Homo sapiens: one gene and its partners. The protein of the gene in region 6 interacts with the protein of the main gene of each other region in a biochemical or structural test. Each region holds a gene or a part of one and is shown on either strand. Other genes may lie near its edges. The genes, in order: LIMK1, GIPC1, MYO18A, CNKSR3, SHROOM4, SLCO1C1 and PDLIM5.

Region 1 (3,500 bases), on a different chromosome or scaffold from region 6:
TCTCGGGTTCAAGCGATTCTTCTGCCTCAGCCTCCTGAGTAGCTGGGATTACAGGCGCCCACCAACAGGCCCGGCTAATTTTTGTATTTTTAGTAGAGATGGGGTTTCACCATGTTGGCCAGACTGGTCTCAAACTCCCGACCTCAGGTGATCTGCCTGCCTTGGCCTCCCAAAGTGCTGGGATTACAGGCGTGAGCCACTGCACCTGGCTTCCTTCTTGAGTTTCACTACACCAGGGACAGCACAAACATGCCTCCTCTTTACTGCCCTGACCTGGGGACTCACCCCTCTCCTGGTGAGTGATTTGGGACAGGCCACTCCAAAGCCAGGTACACCCATCCTGTAACACGGCTTCCCTCCTGTGGCTTCTGTGGCTCTACTCCTGACCCTCTCTCCATCACCCAAGGCTCCATCTCCCCCCTCACCGCAGACACAGGGGTCCCCAAAGTTCTTCCCTTCATTCGTCTTGGCCCTATCACAAATCCCACTCACCATCTCAGGGCCAGCTCCGAGGCGGCCGTTTTTTCTGACTTTCCTACCTCCAACTGGACTCAGGCTCCCATGGCTAGCTCTGGGCAGGACACAGCCACCATGGATAGCCCATGTCCCCTCCAGCTCAACACAGATGAGCATGTCTCCTCCCCAACATGACCCCCAATTCCATCAGAGTCAACAAACCACCAACTCCCCAGTGCCCAGGTTAGAAAACCAGATGGCTTCAGGTTCCACCCTGCCATTCGCCAGTGCCCATGCCCTCCCCGAAGCCCCTGTCTTTTTCTTTCTTCCTTTCTTTCTTTTTTTTGAGATGGGATTTCACTCTGTCACCCAGGCTGGCTTGCAGTGGTGTGATCATAGCTCACTGCAACCTCCACCTCCCAGGCTCAAGCAACCCTCCCATGTCAGCGCCCTTGAGTAGCTGGGACTACAGGCACCACCACCATGCTCAGCTAATTTTTTTGTAGAGACAAGGTTTCACTATGTTGCCCACACTGGTCTCAAACTCCTGGGCTCAAGAGATCCACCTGCCTCCGCCTCCCAAAGGGCTGGGATTATAGGCATGTGCCACCGCCAGCCCCTGCCTTTCCTACTCTGTGGCGATGTGGAGTGAGAAGGTTTTAGTCCCAGCTCTAGATGTTACAACCTTCAGCGAGGCACTTGATTGCATGGAATCTCTGTTTCTCCCATGCAAACTGGGCACATACAGTCCCTCATAGAGTTATGATGAAGATTTAACAAATTAGCATGAAGAGTGCTCAATGCATGGTAGCCAATATGACAAATACTCACCAAAAACTGTCCCTTCTGCCTGAAATTCTCTCCATCCTCAGTCACTGTCCCAGGTCAGGTCCTATGAGCTCAGACCCTTGAGTTACTGGGACAGTCCCTTCCCTGCCTAGATACCACCACCGGCCCACTGGGATGGCATTCTTCAACAGCATGTCACCCCAGCCCCTCCCTGGCTTTCTGCCGACTCCCTTCTATTTTTTTTTTTTTTTTTTTTTGAGATGGAGTCTCGCTCTGTCTCCCAGGCTGGAGTGCAGTGACGTGATCTCAGCTCACTGCAGCCTCCGCCTCCCAGGTTCAAGTGATTCTCCTTCCTTAGCCTCCCGAGTAGCTTGGATTACAGTCATGTGCCACCATGCCTGGCTAATTTTTGAATATTTAGTAGAGACGGGGGTTTCACCACGTTGGCCAGGCTGGTCTCAAGCTCCTGGGGTCAAGTGATCTGCCTGCCTCGGCCTCCCAAAGTGCTGGGATTACGGGGATGAGCCACCACCCCCATCCTGACTTCTGAAACTCCTTATCTTGGCATTCAAGGCCCTTCACGAATCGGTCTCAACTTTGTTTCTTGTTGGATCCCTCAGCTTATTCTGTTCCTTCCAAGGGAACTGTTCCTGTTCCCTCAGCAGTCCGCACCATCCCACCGCTGTGCAGATGGTTTCCTCTGCCTGTTGAGAGCCCTCTTGCCCCCCGAAGGCCTCTTTCTGAGCACCTGATGCAGAATCCCAGGGCATGCTGTCTGTCTCCTTTCAGCCACACTGAGTGTGTTCATTTCACTCACTGGCTGTGTGACTTTCATCAAGAGAATTAACCTCTCTGTGTCCCAATTTTCTCTCTGGCAAAACAAAGACAGCACTAATATCTAACTATGCAAAGTACTTAGAACAGGGGTTGTCCCTTACTGAATGTTAGAAAACGTTAGACGTTATTCCTAAAAAAGAAAAAACAGGCTGGGCATGGTGGCTTATGCTTGTAATCCCAGCACTTTGGGAGGCTGAGTCAGAAGGATCGCTTGAACCAGTTGGAGCTGGAGGCTACAGTGGGCTATGATCTCACCACTGCACGCCAGCCTGGGTGACACAGCAAGACCCTGTGTAAAAAAAAAGAAAAGAAGAAACAAAAAAACAAACCGAGGCCAGGTGCAGTGGCTCATGCCTGTAATTCCAGCATTTTGGGAGGCTGAGGCGGGCAGATCACTTGAGGTCAGGAGTTCGAGACCAGCCTGGCCAACATGGCAAAACCCTATCTCTACTGAAAATACAAAACTTAGCCGGGCGTGGTGGTGCACACCTGTAATCCCAGCTACTTGGGAGGCTGAAGCAGGAGAATCGCTTGAACCTGGGAGGCGGAGGTTGCAGTGAGGAGGGATCGCGCCACTGCTCCCCAGCCTGGGCGACACAACAAGACTGTCTCAAAAAAACCAAAAACCAAAAAATAAACCAAGGCAGAAGCCTAAAATAAAGTCCTAGTGGTGGATGTCTTGACCCCTGCTGGGCATCCCAGAAGCTTCACCTTCTACCCTTTTATGGAGTTTTCTCCCCTGAACCTTGCTGTTTGGTGACTATGCCTGTAATTCTCTCCCACACCATTTGTTTTTCTTTCTTTCTTTTTTAAAAATTGAGACTGGGTCTCGCTCTATTGCCCAGGCTAGAGTGCAGTGGTGCGATCATAGCTCACTGCAGCCTCCACCTCCCAGGCTCAAGTAACCCTGCCACCTCAGCCTCTTGAGTAGCTGGGACTACAGGCATGCGCCACCACGCCCGGCTAATTTTTTGTATTTTCAGTGGAGACAGGGTGTTGCCATATTGCCCAGGCTTGTCTCGAACTCCTGAACTCAAGTGATCTGCCCACCTCAGCCCCAAAAAGTGATGGGATTATAGGTGTGAGCCACCACGCCCCACCTCCACTCTACTTTTCTACCCAGGAAATCTCACATCCTTTGAGACCCCTGCTCTGGCCCTGCTCTGGCTCAAGGCAGGTAGACCCCTGCTCCTGGCTTCTCAGGATGGTCCTACTGGGTGACCTTCAGGTCCTCATGTACTCTTTATCCTCCGCCACAACCCTGACCCTACTTTCTTCCTACCTGTGGGTGTGTGTCTGGACACTGGGGCTGGTGTGACTGGGTTATGCATGTTCGCAAGCAGCCTGGAAGACACTGAGGGTGGCCTGGTTTCCCTTAAGGCCTGGTTTGTCTTCCCTCCCTGCAAGAGCATGAACAC
Region 2 (3,500 bases), on a different chromosome or scaffold from region 6:
GTTCAGCAGAGAAACCCATGTCCTCTCTCCATAGGGCCTGTTTTACTATGATGTAAAAATTAGGTCATGTACATTTTCATATTAGACTTTTTGTTAAATAAACTTTTGTAATAGTCAAAAATGTTTTTTCAGATGTTCTGAATATACAATATTAGCTCTCATTCCAATTTTTTCTAACATGAATTTTCCTGGTTGACATTGATTTCAAAGGGTTTTATGTATTAAAGTGACAGAATCTTATTAAATGTGAAACATGGCAAGGAGAAAAAAAAAAAAAAAGAAACTCATGCTAAAATTTGATCCCCAAAGTGGTGGTGCGGTGTTGGGAGGTGGGGCCTAGTGGGAGGTGTCTGTGTTATGGGGCCAGATCTCTCCTGAATGGCTTGAAGTAGCTCTGGAAGCAATGAGTGCTTGCTCTCAAGAGCCCGGATTAGTTCTCCAGAACTTACAGTAGTTGGCCAGGTGCAGTGGCTCACACCTGTAATCCCTGCACTTTGGGAGGCCGAGGCGGGCGGATCACGAGGTCAGCAGTTCAAGACCAGCCTGGCCAACATGGTGAAACCCCGTCTCTACTAAAATTACAAAAAATTAGGCCAGGCACGGTGGTGGGCACCTGTAATCCCAGCTACTGGGGAGGCTGAGGCAGGAGAATTGCTTGAACCTGGGAGGTGGAGGTTGCGGTGAATCAAGACCGTGCCATTGCACTCCAGCCTGGGCAACAGAGAGAGACTCAGTCTCAAAAAGAAAAAAAAGAAAATACATTAGTTAGGCCAGGAACGGTGGTTCACGCCTGTAATCCCAGCACTTTGGGAGGCAGAGGCAGGCGGATCACCTGAGGTCGAGAGTTCGAGACTGGCCTGACCAACATGGAGAAACCCCATCTCTACTAAAAATACAAAATTAGCTGGGTGTAGTGGCACATGCCTGTAATCCCAGCTACTAGGGAGGCTGAGGCAGGAGAATCGCTTGAACCTGGGAGGCAGAGGTTGAGGTGAGCTGAGACAGTGCCATTGCACTCCAGCCTGGGCAATAAGAGCGAAATTCTGTCTCAAAAAGAAAAAAAAGGCCAGGTGTGGTGGCTCACGCCTGTAATCCCAGCACTTTGGGAGTCCAAGGCGGGTGGATCACGAGGTCAGGAGATCGAGACCATCCTGGCTAACACAGTGAAACCCCGTCTCTACTAAAAATACAAAAAAAATTAGCTGGGCGTGGTGGCACACACCTGTAGTCCCAGCTACTCGGGAGGCTGAGGCAGGAGAATGGCGTGAACTCGGGAGGCGGAGCTTGCAGTGAGCCGAGATCATGCCACTGCACTCTAGCCTGGGTGACAGAGCGAGACTCCATCTCAAAAAAAAAAAAAAAGAAAGAAAGAAAGAAAGAAAATACATTAGTTAGGCCGGGTGCAGGGACGGTGGCTCCCGCCTGTAATCCCAACACTTTGGGAGGCCGAGGCGGGTGGATCACCTGAGGTCAGGAGTTTGAGACCAGCCTGGCCAACATGGTGTGAGCCAAAGAAGGCTGGTGTGAGCCACTGCGCTCAGCCTATATTTTCTTATGTAAAAGGGACTTCCTGGTGCCTCCTATCCAATGGTCTCTTCCAGGGGGCCATGCTGGATTCAGCTTGGCCGCATCCAATCTTTTTTTTTTTTGAGATGAACTCTCACTCTGTCACCCAGGCTGGAGTGCAATGGCGCGATCTCGGCTCACTGCAACCTCCACCTCCCAGGTTCAAGCGATTCTCCTGCCTCAGCCTCCTGAGTAGCTGGGATTACAGGTGCGTGCCACCACACCTGGCTAATTTTTGTATTTTTAGTAGAGATGGGGTTTCTCCATGTTGACCAGGCTGGTCTGGAACTCCTGACCTCAGGTGATTCGCCCACCTTGGCCTCCCAGAGTGCTGGGATTAGAGGTGTGAGCCACTGCACCCAGCCTGCACCTAGTCTCATGTATCCATTTGTTCATGCATCCATTCGTCTGTCCCCTAACACACCCTCTCATCTCACCTGGTCCATCTCCATGATCACTTACCTAAACTAGTGTGGTTGCCTCCTGTGGGTTTCCCAGCTTCCACCCTCACCCCCTACGACTTCTTGTCCAGACAGCAGCCAGAATGGTCCTGTAAAACATAAGTCATGTCGCATTTGTCTCTGCTCTGACCCCTCCCCGGGCTCTGACCTCGCTGGAAAGAAAAATCAGTGTCGGCCGGGTGTGGTGGCTCTCGCCTGTAATCCTAACACTCCGGGAGGCCGAGGTGGGCATGAGCCACCACGCCCAGCCATATATTTTCAAAATTAGCCAGGCGTGGTGGCGGGCGCCTGCAGTCCCAGCTACTCGGAAGGCTGAGGCAGGAGAATGGCATGAACCCGGGAGGTGGAGTTTGCAGTGAGCCAAGATCGTGCCACTGCACTCCAGCCTGGGTGACAGAGTGAGGCTCCATCTCAAAAAAAAGAAAAAAGAAAAGACCCCTCATCATCCCTCCAATTCCGCCAGCTCTACGCACTGGGAGGCAGGAAACTAAAAACATGAATCTGGAACCTGGCTTCATCTCTTAATAGCTGTGTGACTTTGGGCAAGGGTCTTAACCTCTCTGAGCTCCAAGGAAATCATGCATGTGCTTGGAACAGTCCTGGCACACAATAAGGGTTGCATAAATATTGGTGACAATTACTGCTACTGCCATCTTTTGTTTTTTTTTTTGAGACGGAGTCTCGCTCTGTTGCCCAGGCTGGAGTGCAGTGGCACGATCTCAGCTCACTGCAAGCTCTGCTTCCCGGGTTCACGCCATTCTCCTGCCTCAGCCTCCCGAGTAGCTGGGACTACAGGTGCCCGCCACCATGCCCAGCTAATTGTTTGTATTTTTAGTAGAGACGCTGTTTCATCATGTTAGCCAGGATGGTCTCGATCCCCTGACCTCGTGATCCACCTGCCTCGGCCTCCCAAAGTGCTGGGATTATAGGCGTGAGCCACTGCACCCGGCCTTGCTACTGCCATCTGTACCAAGATTCAAGCTTCCTCCTTTTCCCAAGATCCCTACATCCTGACCACCAATTCCCAGCCTCCTTACTCTCTCTCTCTGCCCACCCCACTGCCCTGGTTCATGCCAGCTTCCGTGTCCCCACCCGTGAGGAGGCATTAACAGCAGTGAGGAAAGTGAGTGAGTAATGAATCTGCCTGCCACGGCCATAAGAGGCTTCGTGGCCTGGGTTCAAATCCCACCCCTGCCACTTACCAGCTGTGTGGCTGGGGGGCAAGTCACTTCACATCACAGGGCCTCAGTTTCTTCATCTGAAAAATGGGTGGAATTCCTGTCACTCTCAAGGTGGTTGTGGAAATCCAAAGAGATTACCCACGTATCCCATCTACACTCTGCCTCAGACTCCATTTAAGGACGCTGTTGTCATTACTATGGGTGTCTCCTCCTCTGCCCTGCCCTGCCCAGGAATATCCCAACCCTCTCTGCCTGCCAATACCTACTCCAGGCCCACTCCTCCATGAAGCCT
Region 3 (3,500 bases), on a different chromosome or scaffold from region 6:
AGGGCTGCAGCTCCAGGGACCACGCCGAGTGTGGGGCATCAGTAGGAGAGGAGCCACACTGGGCTGTGTTTTCTCCAATGGTGTTGAAACGAGAGTGCACTTGAACTGACGGAGGCAGTGGAGGCAGGAGGAGTACGGGAAAGGTGGCCCCAAGGCTTTGGGAGAAAGAAAAGAGAAGGTGAATGGAGCTGTGAGATGAGGTCCCCTCTTCCCTGTTCAGTGCTGTGATCCTGCTCCATCAGGGGGAAGAGGCCTCTTCACATCTGGGATAGCTGGAGGCCTCCAGAGCCAGAGGCCTGATGAAGACTCTGAGTTATGTTATTGTACCAAGAAAGGGGCTTTTCCCCTTGGGCCATCCTAAAACAGGTCTTCCCAGCCTCTCCTTCCTGAGCCTCCATTTCTTGTTAGTAGATGATGGCATGGTCAAAGCTGAAAATTCTCACAGGCCTCAGGGAGCCATCATTAGGGGAAAGGGTTCAGATCTGGGAGTATTTGACAGGGAAAGCGCCTCCTCCTCAGAAGGAATCTTTTTAGGAATCACTCGCCTAAGAGAGCCCCTACCCTAGACAAGTTGTACTCACCAGACCTCCAGTCTCCAAGCCAATGTGGTTCACGGACTGCCTGCTTCAGAGCCTTCTGGGGAAGGACTGAAAATGCAGAATTACTGGGTTGTACCCAAAAGCCAGCGATTCAAGGTTTCTAAGAGGAAGGGCCCAGGAACCTGCATCAGATTCTTATGCACGCTTGAGTCCGAGACTCACTGCTCTCAGCATCCCTTTCCTCGGAGCTTTAAAAGCTTCCAGAGTCTCCTTCCTCTTAGCATTTTGAGTATCTTCTAAGTAAGCCAAGGAAGGTTTTTACTTAACAATGTTTGGCTTTTGGGGAGTGCTCTGACGCAGCTTTGTGGGCCTCCAGAACCAAAGGCGTGCGTGCTTAATGGTAGGAGTGTCATTTGTCCCTAACCTTATTCCTCGGTCCCTGCAGCCCCACCAGCTACTGGAAGTCCCTTGCCCCTGATCGGTCAGATGATGAGCACGACCCTCTCGACAACACCTCCAGACCGCGATACTCCCACAGTTATCTGAGTGACAGCGACACAGAGGCCAAGCTGACGGAGACTAACGCATAGCCCAGGGGAGTGGTTGGCAGCCCTCTCACCCCAGGGCCTGTGGCTGCCTGGGCACCTCTCCCAGGAAGTGGTGGGGCACCGGTCTCCCCCACCCGACTGCTGATCTGCATGGGAAACACCCTGACCTTCTTCTGTCAGGGGCACTTTCCAGGCTATGGGTGTCTGATGTCTCCACGTGGAAGAGGTGGGGGAAAGAGGAGTTTCTGAAGAGAACTTTTTGCTCCTCTGTCTCAAAATGCCAGACTCTTGGCTTCTACCCTGTGTCACCGTGGGCAGTGGCAGGTGGCCTGGCACTGCATGGAGCCAGCACGTTGACCTCCCTCTCAGCTCCCTGCTCAGGGACGGTGGACAGGTTGCCTACTGGGACACTCTAGGTTGCTGGGTCCATGGGGAGGATTGGGGGAGGAGAAGCAGTGCCTTCCCTCTCGTGTGGGGTGGGGGCTCTCTCTTCTTGGTGCCTGCTGTCTTTCTACTTTTTAATTTAAATACCCAACCTCTCCATCACAGCTGCATCCCTGAGAGTGGGAGGGGGCTGTAGTGGTAGCTGGGGCTCCCAAGAACGACTCGGGAATGTCATCTCCATCTTCACCCTTCAGAGAGCAGTCCTTTCTCTGTGCAGCTGGAGACGCTGGTGAGGAGAGCCGGGTCCAGGTTCTTAAGAATGAGGTGCGGAGGGGCTCTCCGGTGCTGCTGGGCTGGGTTGAGCAAGCCTACGCAGACAAGTGTGTGTGTGGACCATCCGCACCTCCAGCCCCCACCCCACCCTCTTTGTCTCAGCGTGTTATGTGCAATGACCTATTTAAGGTAAACCCATTCCAACTACAGCAGTTCAGGGCTGATCCAAGCACTGCCTCCCTCCTGCTCTGTCCAGGTGGTCTGGACCATAAACTCAACTTGAGAGGGAAGGCTTGGGGTTGAGGACTTGTGATCAGAAAAACTGAAGATGGAAGTTTTGGCCGGTGCTCATTAGACATGAGTCCTCACTCTGTGTCCTGAGCCCGTGTCATTCTTCCAACCTCCCTGCCCCCACACACTTATCCCAGACACAACACCATGTGGTCTGGAGGTCCCAGCCCCCACCCTAAAAAGGTTATCCCTGAGAACTCCACCAGACTTGGGAGCCCAAGTGCAGTGCCTGGTGCTGCTCCCATCTGCCGCCCCCCTTCTCTCCTGCAATTGGTTTGTACTCACTGGGCTGTGCTCTCCCCTGTTTACCCGATGTATGGAAATAAAGGCCCTTTTCCTCCTGGCTGCGCCAGTTTTCCTGCCTGTTCCTTCAGGCTCAGGCAAAGTCTGGATTGGTCCTGGGGGTGGTGGGCAGAGGCAGGATTCTGATGGGGACCGTGAGGGCATCACCCTGGTCTCTGGCCTGCTCCCCAAAGTGTCAGACCAGTGCCACTTAAAGAGCCTAGGCAGCTCATTTTGGGGCAGGCAGAGGTAGTGGAATGAGGGGATTGGCCAAGGAAGACACAAGCCCCACCTTTTATGTGAAGAGCCTAGGGACTGTGATTCAGGTTAGCAAGGGTGGCAGAGACTCCAAGCCTCATCCTCCCTAGCCTCCACAAGGGAATGTTGAGGTCCCTCTGATTGTTAAATCTCACCAATTACAGAGATTCTCTTCTCTTCTCTTCTCTTCCTCCTTCCGTCCCTCCCTCTCTCCCTCTCTCTCTCTCTTTCTTTCTTTCATTCTCTTTCTTTTTGGATTCAAGCCCTTCTCATTAGAACATTTTTTAAAAGCTTAATTTTAGCCATTTCAAAGGTGACTTTTTGATCAAAACTTGGCAGAACTAGCTCGGGCCCACAGGGCAATGTGAATAGGTTGGGAGTGCTGTCTCTGCCCTGCTCGGTCCCTGTCTTCATGCCCTACTCCATGCTTTGTTCCTTCATTGACAGCTAAGAGGCAGCTCATGCAGAAAGGCAAGAAACAAATGACACCCCTCCTCCTCTTCTACCTTCTACCTTCTCATTCTGTAGTGTGGCCAGTTATAATCCCTGAATGAATAAAGTAGTTTGGACAGATGGGTGGGAAAAAATAGCAAACAGCCCAAGTGCCGAGGCTCTGATAATGTCAGCCATCCAGAAAGAGTCCAAAAGGGAAGAAGGGAGAAAAGTCTCCCCCAAAATGAATGGGACAGAGTGTGAAGTGGATCTGTCTCGAACAGAGACTGCCCCCTCCATTGCCCCACGATAGAACAGAGAAGAGGATAGAAACAATAGTAAAAGGGAAGTTACTTGTCTTTTGGAGACAGAGTCTTGCTATGTCGCCCAAGCTGGAATGCAGTGGCATGATCTCAACTCACTGCAACCTCTACCTCCCGAGGTTCAAGCGATTCTCCTGCCTAAACCCTCCGAGTAGCTGGGACTTAACAGA
Region 4 (3,500 bases), on a different chromosome or scaffold from region 6:
GGCAACAGAGAGAGACTCCATCTCAAAAAAAAAAAAAGAGTGTACCATTATATGTTGTCTTCTGATGCTTTTTCCCACTCAGCACTATATTAATAAAATCCATCTCTTTGATATGAATAGCTGTAATTTATTCATTTTTACTTGCTGCAGAATATTCCATGGTAAGAATATACCACATGTAAACCTTTTTTTGCCAACAGACATTGGGCTGTGTTCTACAAAGGCAGATGGCCAAACAGCACACATAACAGGCACCCTAGAGACCCTCTGCTGGGGATGCCTTGAGAAAAAGCAGTAGAAGGAGTGCAGGTCCCCTGCTGTCAATTTCATCTGGGGCACTAAACAGATGGCTAAAGGAGCCCACCCTCAGAATCCAAAAGAGGGTCCCGAAACCTTGTGGGGATTGTAAGCTCTATGATGAAGGAGGCACCAGCCTCTCTATTGGCATCATCAGAGGTTGTGTTTGCAGCTAGGCAACACTGCAAACTAGCAGCAGGATTTGCTTCATTAGCATCGATGTTTGGGGAACAAGGAGCCCTTGCCTCCCCTGACGGCAGCAGCAGAATGGGGTCTAAGCCTTGCATTTGATGAGACTTCACTGCCCTAAGTCATGGGTCATTGCCAGTTTCCATGGAGCTCCACAAGAGCCTGACTTCTTTTCTGGGAAACCAACTTCTAGAACACTTTGAAATGTTAGCATTGTCCTCTGAGGTAGTTAGTGGTTTGTTTGTTTGTTTGTTTGTTTGGAGATGGAGTCTCATTCTGTCGCCCAGGCTGGAGTACAGTGGCACAATCTCAGCTCACTGCAACCTCCACCTCCGGGGTTCAAGCGATTCTCCCACCTCAGCCTCCCAAGTAGCTGGGATTACAGGTGCCCGCCACCACGCCTGGCTAATTTTTGTATTTTTAGTAGAGATGGGGTTTCACCATGTTGGCCAGTCTGGTCTCGAACCCCTGACCTCAAGTGATCCACCTGCCTTGGCCTCCCAAAGTGCTGGGATTGTAGGTGTGAGCCACTGCACCCACCTACTTAGTGTTTCTAATCCCCAGGATATATATCTAGGAATGAAACTGCTGAGTCATAGGGTATGTGAATACTCACTGCTAATTTAACCTCATACACATAATATACCAGATCCCACTGATCGTTCTAGGATATCCTCCAAGTATTTTCTAATCATTTCAGTTTTGCCAGTCAGGTAGAGAGCAGCATCTCCCTGTGATTTTGACTTCACTTTCCCTGCTCGCTAGTGAAAATCGCTTCACATGCATATGGACCATCTGATTCTCTTTTGCAAAATGCCTTTTCGCTCGTTTTTGTGTTGATTTGTCATTCTCTTGCCAATTTGTAATAATTATATGTATATATTCTTACTGCTAACCCTTAGGACTTTTTAATCTTCTCCCAATTTGTAACTTTTTAAAAATTTTCTTTAAGGTGTCCTATGATGAGGAAAAGTTCTAAGCTTTAGCGTAGCTGAATTTATTAGTCTTTTCTTTTGTACTCAGCCCTTTTACTGTCTTCTATAAGAAATCTTTCCCTATCCAAGGTTACAAAAACAAATTTCAAAATGATTCATAGATCAAATAATAAATCATAATAGAAATTAAAAATTAGTTAGAATTAAAGAGTAATGAAAATGCCATATACCAAGCCTTGCAAAACATGGCAAAATAAATGTTTTGGGGAAAATGTAGTCTTGAGTATTAATATTAGAAAAGAGTTGTAAATTAATAAGCTAAATATCCAACTTAAGAAACATGTCAGAGACCACTCATCCTGACCAATATCACTCTCCCAACCTTCCTTGAAGTTGCAGTGGCTGTGATTGTCATTTCTTTTCTTTTGTGAGATGAGGGTTTTGCTTTGTCATCCAGACTGGAGTGCAGTGGTGTAAACCTGGTTTACTGTAACCTCAAACTCCTGGGCTCCAGCGATTATCCCACCTCAGCCTCCCAAATAGCTGGGACCACAGGTGTACACCACCAAGCCTGGTTGTTATATTTTTTTGAAAGATAGGGTCTCACTATGGTGCCCAGCTGGTCTTGAACTTCTGGTCTCAAGCAATCCTCCCAGCTCAATCTCCCAATTGTTGGGTTTCTGACTGTTAGCCACCACACATGGCCTTATTATTGTCACTTCTAGGCCAGGTTGGTTGAGTATTCACTTTCCTGGGACCCATCTCCCAATTTACCAGGTGGATAATGCCTGGGTCACCTTGAAGTCCAAAATTGGAGACACCATAACCACGCTGGAGACACCAGGAGCAACCCAAGTCCCTGAGTCACTAGCTAGAGGACAGCCACAGAGCATTACCCAACCTGGAACATCCAAAGTGGACGTTGATGAGGAAAATGTAAACTCTTAGTGTGTAAAGTCACTGAGATTTGGGGGTTGTTTGTTATAGCATGAGCCTAATACAAGAAGTAAAAAAAAAAAAAAAAAAAAAGAAGAATTCCAAAGGAAACAGAAGAAAATAGAAAATAAAAAGCAGAAATCAGTGAAATTGAAAACAAAGAAACAACAGAAAGGCCCAACAAAGGGACCACTGTTCTTTCCTGAACCTTAGGAAAGCCATCAGATAACTGTCCGATTCTGTTCTTAGTCCTCTTGCCAAGTCTATTTTCCTCTCCCCACGCTGTTCACAAGAAGAGCATATAGAGAACCTGCATATATAAAGCTGTGTGGGTTGGATTCTTTGTTGCTTATACCTCCAATGGCCAAATACATTTTCTTTCGTCACAGGAACTAAAGGAAAGAGATGGTCTGAGCACAGAGAATGAATCTAGGAGAGAGGTGACTGGTTTGGGCTGCATCAGGAAAATGCGAAGGCTAAAGACCAGAGCAAGAGACCAAAATGCAGGGAGTACAGGTGGAAAAGGTCAAGTGGAACGGAGGTGCCCAGGGCAGGAGAGCAGGGCTTCCTGGCAAGCTTAGGACGCGTGCTCCCCCTGCAAGGAGAGAAGGAAAAAGTAAGAGTTTTCTTATTTGCATGCATCAAGTATTTTCCATTGCCAAGAAGAGAATTCAATCCCATTTCCCATGTAATGAGTGAAGGGTAGTCTATGTTTCCAGTTAATTCTACAAGAGTGCTTTTGAAAAAAGTACTCCAAAGAATTGGGAAAATGATCATACAGAGCCCTGGTAACAGTCATCATCATCATCCATTGCTGTTTACAAAGGAGACTCTGTATTTAACCACCCAGGATCTCTTTATTTTAATTTGTTTTCTTTGTTGAACTGCATCATAATTGAGTATCTCCTGCTACTTGTTATCTTTTTGCAGTGCAGGATGTGTGGGGGAGCAGAATTTCCACTTGTTTTCTTTCATCAACAAAGTAGAACATCACAGACTCAGATGAGCCCTATGTAGCAATATGCAAAGGACATTACTTGAAAACTCAACTTTCTTGTTCTCAGACTTTTATTAATGCAGTTTGTTGTCTCCAAAAGAGCAGCAACAATATTCTCAGTGGTTCTACCACTCAACCCCTTGGGA
Region 5 (3,500 bases), on a different chromosome or scaffold from region 6:
ATCAAAGAGGCAGTTATCCCCACCGCTTGCTGCAAATGGAGATTGTGATGGGAACTTGCTGTCCCAGTGGAAGTGATACTGCTAGAGGGCATCCGGCCACACTAGAGAGGGCCTGGGCTTTGCAATCAGCTTATGGAGAGGCAGTGTAGCACAGTCAGGAGCTTGGCCTCTGGAGCTTGATAGCATGGATTCAAATCGCACACCTGCCTTTCACTTGCGGCCTCAGGCAAGCCATTCAACTTCTCTTTATCTCAGTTTCCCCAACTATATAATAGTATAATCACGATAATAATATTGCTTGAGAACTCAATGACTTGATACATGTAAAGCATCTAGAATAGTACCTGGTGCCCAGTAGACACTGAGATGCTAGTTACTGTCATGTTATTCAAATTCTGGCTCTGCCACTTGCTAGATGTGTGACCTCTCTGAGCCTTGGCTTTCTCAGCTTCCTCAGCTGTAAAATGGGAGATCCTATTATAACTTATCCCATACAATTGGTAAGTGAAATAATTTGACAATGAATGAAAAACAAGCTGGTATGAAGGACGTGAGTGCATGCTGATTTCAGTCTTCACAGCACTGAACAGGAGACAATTAGTTCACCAACCTCGTCCAGGGGCATTAGGAGCAGGATCTCAGCCCTACTTCAGATAGCTACCACCACAAGTACCTGAGTCATCAGAGCGATGGCATCTTAACCCATGCTGCAAGTTTTTCCCATTTCTTGAGGGGGGTGGAGTAGGAGTGGAAGGTTCAGATGATGGGCAGAAATGGGCATGTGGTGTCTCCTAGGCAGCCATCCACGTGTCGGAATGCCTAGTATCTAAGCAGACCTGCTTAGCTGGTCTAACAAGCATTAGGAACCCAAGGTATCCCTCCCTCAGAGTACAAAAAATAGAGGCATGGTGTAGGCACAGCCTCACCCGCATGCATTACTGCTGCCAATTGCTGCAACCTGCAAATCGTACCTCCATCTCTTATAGAGCTGCTGGTCCTGGGCTGACACCGCTGCAGCCGTCATCTCCTCACTTCCCCCGCCCCACTCACCCCCAATCTCAGCCCCCTTTGTCTACTGTCTATCTGTGAGTCCTTCTTCCAGCAAAAGTCTCTCAAGCTAAGCCAAAATGTCCCTTTAAGAGATGATAACTCACTTATAAGATGATTACAATCTGGCAGTCACTGCTCTGAGTCTTAAATGTGTTACATCACTTAATCCCCACAACCAACTTATGAAGTAGGTGTTGTTACTACCCCCATGCTTTTAGATGGGAAAGCTTAGGCATTGTAAGTTCGGGGGAAGAAATTCAAAACCAGGCAGTCTGGTTCCAGCTTCGGTGCCCTTAAAACCATTATTTTATATTTCCTCTCCTCTTTTTTTCAACATTATGAATATATTCAAACATACAAAAATGTTGAAAGAAGTTCACAGTGATCACCCATATACCCAGCACCTAGATTCTACAATTAACATTTTGATATATTTGCCTTATCATATATCCATTTACTCCTCTATCCATCTACCAATCCATCTTAAAATCCTGGTGCATTTTAAAGTAAGTTGAAAACAACTATATCCCCATAAATTTTAAAATGTAAATGAAATGGACAAATTTCTTGAAAGACACAAACTACTAAAGCTTACTCAAGGAGAAATAGATGACCTAAATGTCCCCAAATCTATTAAAGAAATTGAATTTGTAGTTAAAAAGCTTTCTACCAAAAAACCTCCAGGCCCAGATGGCTTCAGTGATGAATTCAAGCAAACATTTAAGGAAGACATTTTATACAAACTCTTCCTGAAAATAAAAGAGAAGGGAATACATCCCAACTCATTTTTTAAGGCTAGCATTACCTTGATACAAACAAACAAAAAAAACAAAAAACAGAAAAAGATGTTATAATAAAACTATAGACTAAAATCCCTGATAAACATAAGGGCAAAATCCTTAACAAAATATTAGCAAATCTAGTAACATATAAAAGGATAATACATCATGACCAAGTGGGATTTATCCTGGCAATGCTAGGCTTCTATTTATTTTAAAAATCAATCAATGTCATTCACCACATCAGTAGACTAAAAGAGAAAAACTATATGATCATCTCAACAGATACAGAAAAAGCATTTGAAAAAAAATACAACATCCACTTCTGATGAAAACTCTCAGTAAACTAAGAATAAAAGAGATTTTCCTCAATTAAAGGGCACCTACAAAAAAATCCTACAGCTAACATCAAACTTTATAGTCAAAGATTAAGAAAAAAGCTACAATGTCCACTCTTACCATTTCCTCCAAACATTGTATTGAAGGTGAGAGTGCAATAAGGCTCTTCTCTCTCCCAGAAAAGGGCATGTACAGGAGAAAGGAAGACACTAAATTCTATTTGGAGATGGCATGATTGTGTATGTAGAAAATGTTTTATAATCCACCAAAAAGCTATTAGAACTAATAAGTGAGTTTGGCAAGGTTGCAGGATACAATGTCAATACACAAAATTCAATTATATTTCTATAGACTAGTAATCAAGAATTTCAACTTGACATTAAGAAAATAATACTCTTTATAATAGCATCTAAAAACATAAAATCTTAGGGACAAATATCCCTGGTGGTTGGGTGGCTAGGATTCGGCGCTTTCATAAAATCTCAGGGACAAATATAACAAAATATGTACAAGATTTGTATGCTGAAAACATAAGTTGAATACAGCAGTATACTTCAAACACACTTCAGCATACATATTAAATAAAGTTTAATATTTGTTTACAACATTTTTAGGCAAAATTTACTTCCAGTGAAATGCACAAATACTAAGTGCATTGGCTGTCTAGGAGCCTTGCTATACATTTGTTGAGTTCTGACAGGTACATATGTTTAACTCAAACTCTTACCAAGATATAGAACATTGTCACCACCCCACAAGTTCCCTCTGCCCTTTTCCAGTCAATCTCTGTGCCACCTCCCATTGGCGAGCAGTGTTCTGAATTTGTTCCCCCATAGAATAGCTGTTTTAGAATTTCATATAAAAGGAATTGTAGAGTTCATAGTCTTTTGTGTAAGGCTTCTATCACCCTTGAAGTTCCTTTTTACCAAGGATATATATTGAGCAAATTCAGATACTAAGTCATTTCAAAAGTGTCTGTGTATGCAACAGCTGAACACAGGAATTAACTTCTGGTTTGAATGCACCGGCCAAAAGATGGCATCAGGGATGCCATGGGGAAGTAATCTGGCAGTGAGTAGGCAAGGACCTAGGGAGTCCTCCCAGAAGTAGCCTGGGGGATGGTGGTAGCTTGTGTTATGGTAATAGGTCATAACCGGGATATAAGAGCAGCCAGTTTAGACCTGGGTCTCCAACAGAGACAGGATGGAGAAAGGGGAAAGGATTTGTCTTTTTAAAAACCCAACAAGTCAGATCTCTGAAAGCAAAGCCTGGGGATATTTGCAAGTTTTGCATCTCTAAATACTTCTGAAGTAGAAAATGGGAGGCAATAAG
Region 6 (3,500 bases):
GTGTGGAATAATCCAAATGCGCTCTACAAGAATTTACTGCAATGATGAATAGAAGTTACATCATAAAAGGGATTTTTCCACCCAGTGGTCTAGAAAGAAGAATAAAGGGATTCTATTACCAAGAACACAAGATCAGAGCAGGCAATAAAAATTCAAATCTCAGGTGCCTTTGGTTAGCAATTGACTACAGACTCCTTAGAAATTAAAAAGATCGAGTAATTTGAGTCACTGTTTTAGAAGTAATTTAAAGAGGATAATCCTAGTTAGTCTGCTTCCTGAATTGATAAACTAAAAGGCTTTAATTTTTTGCTGAAGTAAACGAAATAGTACCCTCTCTGGTCCTTAAGGCTTGTTTAGATTCAGATATACACCATAGTAAAACCTCTAACTGCTCCAATTTTAGCTTTACCTGGTGAACTTTCAGAAAAGTGAATAAATATTTTTCAACTCTTTAACAATTTATTTCTTTTCATACATACTATGTGTTTTGGTTCTTACTCTGAATATCACAGAAAAAATAAAATGAATAAGTAACCTTTTGCCTTCAGGCATTTGCTTCCCAAATTCATCTTTTGTCATCCTTCCAGAATGACATTTCTTAGTGCCAAATTTTAATGTCCACACAAATAACTGGGCAATCTTTTAAAAATCTTTTTTTAAAACCTGAATTGGTAGGAACAGGATAAAATTCTGCATTTCTAATAAGCTCCTAAATGATACTGATGCTTCTAGTCAGTAGATCACATTTTGTGTAGCAGGTTTCCAAAACATCTGATCACATCAATCTTTTATGTAATTTGCTTAGATTGGCCCGGATGGTTGATTTATTCCTTGAGCCCTGTTCTACTGATGGCCCTGCACTGAGTGAAGGGCCAAAGAGAATCAAGGTAAAGGGTGATACATTATATCATGAGAGAAAAACAAGGAGAAAGAGGTAACTGGTGCAGATAAAAGAATAGAGCAGATATGAGCAGGCAAAACATTATATATCATGATGTTTTGATGTTTTTCTCACTCTAGATTATTATATAAAAATATTTTAGAGCTGAAGAGGCATAGAAATGATTTGGTCCAAAGTTTTGTTTGGGCTCCCAGGTCCTGATGCAACTTGAGAGACAAAGTTTATATTTGATAGAGAGAGTATACTAAGTTTTCACAGGAAGTAGCAGAAAACCATGACTCCAAATTCACATTAATTCTTCCAGACCATTCTAGGTATATAAATTATTTATTGGATTGGATGCCTTAAAATGGCTTAAAAGTTCTCTTACTTCCATTGAAAACCTTTATCCCAAACATCACAGGTTTGCCCTAATTATTTGAGTTACATAAATTTCCAGACAAATGACTTCGCTGAACATAATCTTAATTTACTTCTTTTGCCTCTTTTTGCATTCCTTCTTTTCAAGATTCTAGAACAAATATCATCCTCCGTCTTTATGTTATTTGTATGTGGCAACTTTGTTGAAATTCTATTAGTTTTAATTGATTTTCCATGGAAACTGTAGAGTTTTGTGGACAAATTGTCTAAAACAAAATATAATTTCGTATCTTTCTTTGCAACTCTTAGATTTTTGTTGTTGTTGTTGATATTACCTTATTACATTAGCCTCAGAACTGTGTTGAAGAGAAGCATTTACAATGGACATCTTTCTCTTGTGTTTGACCTTGATGCAAATACTTTTAAAATTTTAGTATTAAGCAATATGCTTGCTTTGTGGTTTTGATAGATACACTTTAAAAGCTGGTTTGCTCAGATTTGTTTTTTCCTAACATAAATCAATGGTTAATTTTATTTAGTACTTTTACAGTGTCTATTAAGTTAACCATGGAATTATTCCCCTTCCATTTGTTATATAGGGATTTAATTAATAATTTATTGTTAGTTGGTGGTACTCTTGTACTACTATAATGAACTGCGCTTGGTTGGGATATTTTTATTTGTATATACTATTCCGTTTGCTAATAATTTGTTTAGGATTTTTACATCTATCTTCATAATCAAGTTTGGGCTCTAATTGTCTTTTCTTATATTGTCCTTGTCCAGTTTTGGTTTTAAGAAAATAGTAGTCTTACAAGATGAATTGAGTAGCTTTCTTTTTTTTCTGTTATCTCGAGTGTGTCTGTGTGTGTGTGTGTGTGTGTGTGTGTGTGTGCATAGACAGACAGAAAAAGAGAGGAGAGCAAGAATATGTTACTTTAAAGTTTGGTAAGACATATTTCTAAAACTTTCTGTACCTGTTTTTTTGTGAGAGGCTAATGATGGTAGATATGGAATAATTTTTATATCCAATTTCATTTTTTAAAGATTTTGTATCATCATTTATATTTCAAATGTATCTCCTGACAACTCAGAAAGGATACTAAGGAAGCAAAAACTTTGATAGATACAGTATATATATGGTATATAGATATATATATATATCTGTATTACAGGTACTGAACTCATATTGTCTTGTATATGACATGCCCATTAACGTAACACAGAAATAGCTTGTAAACAGAAGTGTTTATTGTGTGGTATTGGTGGAGTGTAGGCGAGAATAGGAGAGAATTACCTATAAAGTGAATGTCAACTTTCATTTTATGTTGGTTCGTTTATTGTGGTACATTAACAAACATATAGATAGAATTATCAAAATAATATGATACACAATGTCTTCTACTAAATACTTAAATTTCAAATGAGACATCTTGTGCTAAATTATTCGTTTTTTAATATGAACATTAAGAAGAGCTTAATTCTTCTTGGAGCCATAAAGACTAGGACCACTGTGCAAGTCATGTTTCTCACTATCATTCTTATTATCCTCAAGCCCACAAAAATTACTGCTTTATTTCCAGTTTACTAAAGCTGGCAATGTGCGTGAACAGTAGTAAATTAGATGATTGCTTACAGATGTAGGGAAACATGCTTTGCTCAAAAATTGGAAATGAGGAGAACTTCAAAGCAAGGCCACCCATTAGCCATCACAATCAATTGCTGGGAAATTGTTAAGATCTTACTGTATTTAGCATGGTACATCTTAAAAACTAAATATCTCAAATAAATATAGCTAAAGCTTTAAAGCCCCTTGAAGTCTAAAACCCTAAACAATGTTTATCAAAGCATGTTCTAGGAATCATCTCCATCAACACACTTGAGTTAGTATTACAAATGCAGATTTCTTGGCCTGACCTCAGATCCATGGAATCAGAAACGTTTGGTACTTGCCAAGAATCGCATTTTTAACAAGTTTTCATTTCCTTAACCGTTTCCTGTCAGTATTTTTACGCACAGCAAAGCGTGAGAAATATTACTTGAAACATGTTTAATCACTTATCACCATCATCAACTAAAAGTAACGTGTCACATGCTTCATTAGAGACATTTTAGAAAACCATAATTTCTACTTTCAAAAAAACCCAATATTTTTAAACCATTTTTCACAAAAGAGATAAATGGGCACATTTTATAGAGATTTTGTATTTCATAAAATTTGCTTTATAGGCATATGTTG
Region 7 (3,500 bases), on a different chromosome or scaffold from region 6:
CCTCAAGACCGTATGTACAGCCCAGGAGCTGTTCTTCTAGAGCTCCTGCTCTCCCTCTCTCAGCAGCAGCCTGGAGTTTTGCCACCTTCTCTTTCAAAGCCCCAAAGTTGCCATGGCAGCAGTGCTACAGAAAGCACAGCCTCTTCATTACAGGAATTAACATTCAGAAGGGATTATCTCAGAGAATGGACCTATCCACACAAGTATTTTAATTATATTTTCCTGGGAACTGGCATTGGTAAAAACCATCAGGCCTGTAGACTATTTCCCTTTGTCTTCCTTTTAAGGTACATTTTTGTCACAATAAATCTGATAAAAATGATTTTACATAAATGACTGCCTTAAAGTATCATCCCTGAATTCCAAAAGCAATAAAATGACCATCATTATTCTCTCTCTTTTCTTTACTTTTTTCTTTGCAAGTAGGATTACATTATAGAAAAGAATTATTTTTAAAAAAGATACTGTACATAACCTCTCACGGCCAACTTAAATCCTTGCTCCTCAACATAAATTTCTGACTATCTGATAACATTATATTTGAACCGAAAGTGTTAAAAAAAAATAAACAAATAATTGAAGGTTGCTGAAAAACAGATGTGTGATCTTATAACTATGTGTAGTTCAAATAAGTTAATAACTTCAACCAATTTTTTTAATAAAAAGATACCCCCAAAAGGGAAAAACGATAAGAAACAGATTTTCAAAGTGTTCTGCTAACATGTATGTTTAGTGTCCAATGGCTTAAATTTACTCATTTCAGAAAACGTTTACAATGAAAGTATTTTATAATTTGCTTCTAATGCTTTCTAAGCGTGCCTTGTTGTTTCATTACTGTCTGCTTTTAAAGAATAAATTCTAACTTAAACTTATCTGAAAACAATGTTGTTAGCTCTCTGCTCTAAGCTAATGCTTCACATATAGACATGAGTCAAAAGCGGACTGGTTTTCCTAAGATTACCTCCTAGAAAAAAAACCCCTTACAAATTCATGATTTCCCCTCTCCTTACGATGAGTTGTGTAAGGTGACAGCAACTGTAACCACTGTTTGAACTTTTGGTGGCCTATTTAAAAGAATGAAAAAATTGAGGAAGAAAGATTCAAGATTTGCCTTGCATTACAAGTGCCAGCTGCTCAATGCTGTGTCGGGACTTACAAAAAATGAGTTACAGAGATGTTACATGGTTCAGAACATGTCAAAATGCACAAGTAGCTTTTGAATAAGTGATAATTGCTTTGCAGAAAGTACCCTATGTATATAAAGGCCATATGTTAATGAGGCAAATAATACTTCATCTCCCTTCCTTCAAAGAAAGTTGGTTTTGGGGGAGAGGAATGTAGAGTATTTCCTGGAAATTACCTGAAAGAAGAGTTTTAGTAAGAGCAGAAAGCACCTTAGCCACCTACCCATTTTGCTGTTTACTGTCACCCTGGGATCCTCTTCTCTGTCCCTCTGCTAGCTCCTGAGAAGTCTCGGAACACACGCTGGTGACTGTGGGCTGCCGTGGGACATTAACTGCAGTTTTACCAGCGCTCAGTGCAGATGGAGACTGGTCAGCACTAAGATTGGCATTAGCATGCAGTCCAGATGCAGCGAACAGGGGAGGAGTGACGGCAGCCACGGGTGAAGGGGAAGCATGTGATGAGGTGGTCGCATGGGCTGGGGTGAAGGCAGACGATGGTGATGGGATGGATGTGACTTTTGGTGAAGACACAGAACCAAAAGGCCGTGGTGCCTTATTGTAGGCCATGTTGTTTGTGGAAGTGACTTTGGACACAGCAGGAGATGTAATGGGCACAGGTTTAACTACTTCTTTAGGTTCTCCCTATGTAAAACAAAAATAAACATACACAAAACCACACCAAACACATGCAAAATATATTTCACCGAAAAGAACACAGAGCTGATTTTTTAAAAGACAAACACAATCAGGTTAGCAGCTCAAACATCATGTTTCCAGATAAAAACAATGGGCTGATAAAGCATAACGTGCATGCTAACTAGTCCCAACATGCATAACACAGATGCACACATTAGGTATAATTTTTAAAAATAAAAATGAAAGTAGTTTCAAAATATTTCGGAAATACAGCAGGAAAACTATCAGAAAGCCTAAAGCCCCTCATCAGTGTCAACCTAGGCATATTCCAAAGGAAAAATGTTTAAATACCCTACAATAAACAAAACATTGCTAACTGAGGTGTTTTTTATGTTAAAATATCCAAAGCCCATCTTTCCATCTTTCAAAGCCCATAGTCCCATTTTTCAAACATGTTTCATTTCTCTCCAGAGTGGAATCATTTGTTTCACGCAGAAGGAGCAGCACATTTCTAACTCTTTAAGTTTAAAAAAACAAAAAACACAGGGAATAAGATAATTTTCACCTAACTCAGGAATGTGCAAACTCTAATTAATAATCTTAAAGAATTTGAAAAAAAAAAAAAAACTTTAAAAAAGCAAATAAAACAAAATCCTTTCTTTCTTGTAATCCACCTCCATTTCTCTCTCTGAATGTTTTAAGATATGATTCAGAGATAGAATAAAATTCTTTTCCTTTTCCAAAATAAATATTTAATAGTTACATGAAGAAAAAAAAATCTTCAATATTTCCCCATCGTCAGCAGCCAAAGAAAAAACAACTAGTAAGAAAGGTCAATTCCTCCTAAAATTACCAGAATTTTTATTTGCCAATCCTTATTCCAAAGCATATTTAAAGTTAAACAAAATCAGACTAAGCTTCTACAACATTCAAGAATAAATCCCAGGAGGCGGGATAGCTCAGAGGTAGAGCGTTAGACTTCAGATCAAGAATAAATCCCTATTCCACCCTACCATATCAAAAGAAAAAATCAAATTTTTGAAAAATCATACAATGGTGGTTCTACTGTTTAATTTTAAGAAAAAAGGTAATCTCAATTCATCTTGTTTTTTTTTTTTTTTTTGAGACAGGAGTCTTGCTCTGTCACTGAGGCTGGAGTGCAGTGGTGTGATCTCAGCTCACTGTAACCTCCACTTCCCGGGTTCAAGTGATTCTCCCACCTCAGCCTCCTGGCTAGCTGGGACTACAGATGCGTGACACCATGCCCAGCTAATTTTTGTATTTTCAATAGAGATGAAGTATCACCATGTTGGCCAGGCTGGTCTCAAACTTCTGACCTCAGGTGATCCGCCTGCCTCGGCCTCCCAAAAAGATGGGATTACAGGCGTGACCCACCGCGCGCAGCCTCAATTCATCTTATAGGAAGAAGAAAACTAATTGAGAAAAATAAGTAGCTTAGTGCCCACACGAATCAATACAGGTTGAGTATCCCTTATTTAGACAGCTTGGGACCAGAAGCATTCAGATTTCAGATATTCTCAGATTTTTGAATCTTTGTAGAATGCAGGAGCATCCCTAATCCAAGAATCCAAAATCTGAAATGCTGCAATGGTCATGTGAGCATGTCAGTGTTCAGAAAGTTTGGGATTTTGGAGCATTTTGGATTTTCTAATTAGGGAT

Evidence for each region.
Region 1: the proteins of SLCO1C1 (region 6) and LIMK1 interact in a test that uses a peptide from one of them, tested with the Homo sapiens proteins (one large-scale study listed by IntAct).
Region 2: the proteins of SLCO1C1 (region 6) and GIPC1 interact in a test that uses a peptide from one of them, tested with the Homo sapiens proteins (one large-scale study listed by IntAct).
Region 3: the proteins of SLCO1C1 (region 6) and MYO18A interact in a test that uses a peptide from one of them, tested with the Homo sapiens proteins (one large-scale study listed by IntAct).
Region 4: the proteins of SLCO1C1 (region 6) and CNKSR3 interact in a test that uses a peptide from one of them, tested with the Homo sapiens proteins (one large-scale study listed by IntAct).
Region 5: the proteins of SLCO1C1 (region 6) and SHROOM4 interact in a test that uses a peptide from one of them, tested with the Homo sapiens proteins (one large-scale study listed by IntAct).
Region 7: the proteins of SLCO1C1 (region 6) and PDLIM5 interact in a test that uses a peptide from one of them, tested with the Homo sapiens proteins (one large-scale study listed by IntAct).

Annotation. Positions count from the first base shown.
Region 1 is NC_000007.14:74,086,804-74,090,303, reverse strand, and holds part of LIMK1 (LIM domain kinase 1), read right to left. Parts: intron 1-3,500. UniProt on the Homo sapiens protein: Serine/threonine-protein kinase that plays an essential role in the regulation of actin filament dynamics. Acts downstream of several Rho family GTPase signal transduction pathways.
Region 2 is NC_000019.10:14,489,628-14,493,127, forward strand, and holds part of GIPC1 (PDZ domain-containing protein GIPC1), read right to left. Parts: intron 3,290-3,500; exon of another isoform or gene 3,286-3,289; 5' UTR 3,230-3,285; intron 2,117-3,229; 5' UTR 2,029-2,116; intron 1-2,028. UniProt on the Homo sapiens protein: May be involved in G protein-linked signaling.
Region 3 is NC_000017.11:29,072,399-29,075,898, reverse strand, and holds part of MYO18A (unconventional myosin-XVIIIa), read left to right. Parts: intron 1-984; coding exon 985-1,129; 3' UTR 1,130-3,500.
Region 4 is NC_000006.12:154,392,186-154,395,685, forward strand, and holds part of CNKSR3 (connector enhancer of kinase suppressor of ras 3), read right to left. Parts: 3' UTR 1-3,500. UniProt on the Homo sapiens protein: Involved in transepithelial sodium transport. Regulates aldosterone-induced and epithelial sodium channel (ENaC)-mediated sodium transport through regulation of ENaC cell surface expression.
Region 5 is NC_000023.11:50,629,195-50,632,694, forward strand, and holds part of SHROOM4 (protein Shroom4), read right to left. Parts: intron 1-3,500. UniProt on the Homo sapiens protein: Probable regulator of cytoskeletal architecture that plays an important role in development. May regulate cellular and cytoskeletal architecture by modulating the spatial distribution of myosin II.
Region 6 is NC_000012.12:20,701,832-20,705,331, forward strand, and holds part of SLCO1C1 (solute carrier organic anion transporter family member 1C1), read left to right. Parts: intron 1-3,500. UniProt on the Homo sapiens protein: Mediates the Na(+)-independent high affinity transport of organic anions such as the thyroid hormones L-thyroxine (T4), L-thyroxine sulfate (T4S), and 3,3',5'-triiodo-L-thyronine (reverse T3, rT3) at the plasma membrane.
Region 7 is NC_000004.12:94,573,942-94,577,441, reverse strand, and holds part of PDLIM5 (PDZ and LIM domain protein 5), read right to left. Parts: intron 1,827-3,500; coding exon 1,408-1,826; intron 1-1,407. UniProt on the Homo sapiens protein: May play an important role in the heart development by scaffolding PKC to the Z-disk region. May play a role in the regulation of cardiomyocyte expansion. Isoforms lacking the LIM domains may negatively modulate the scaffolding activity of isoform 1.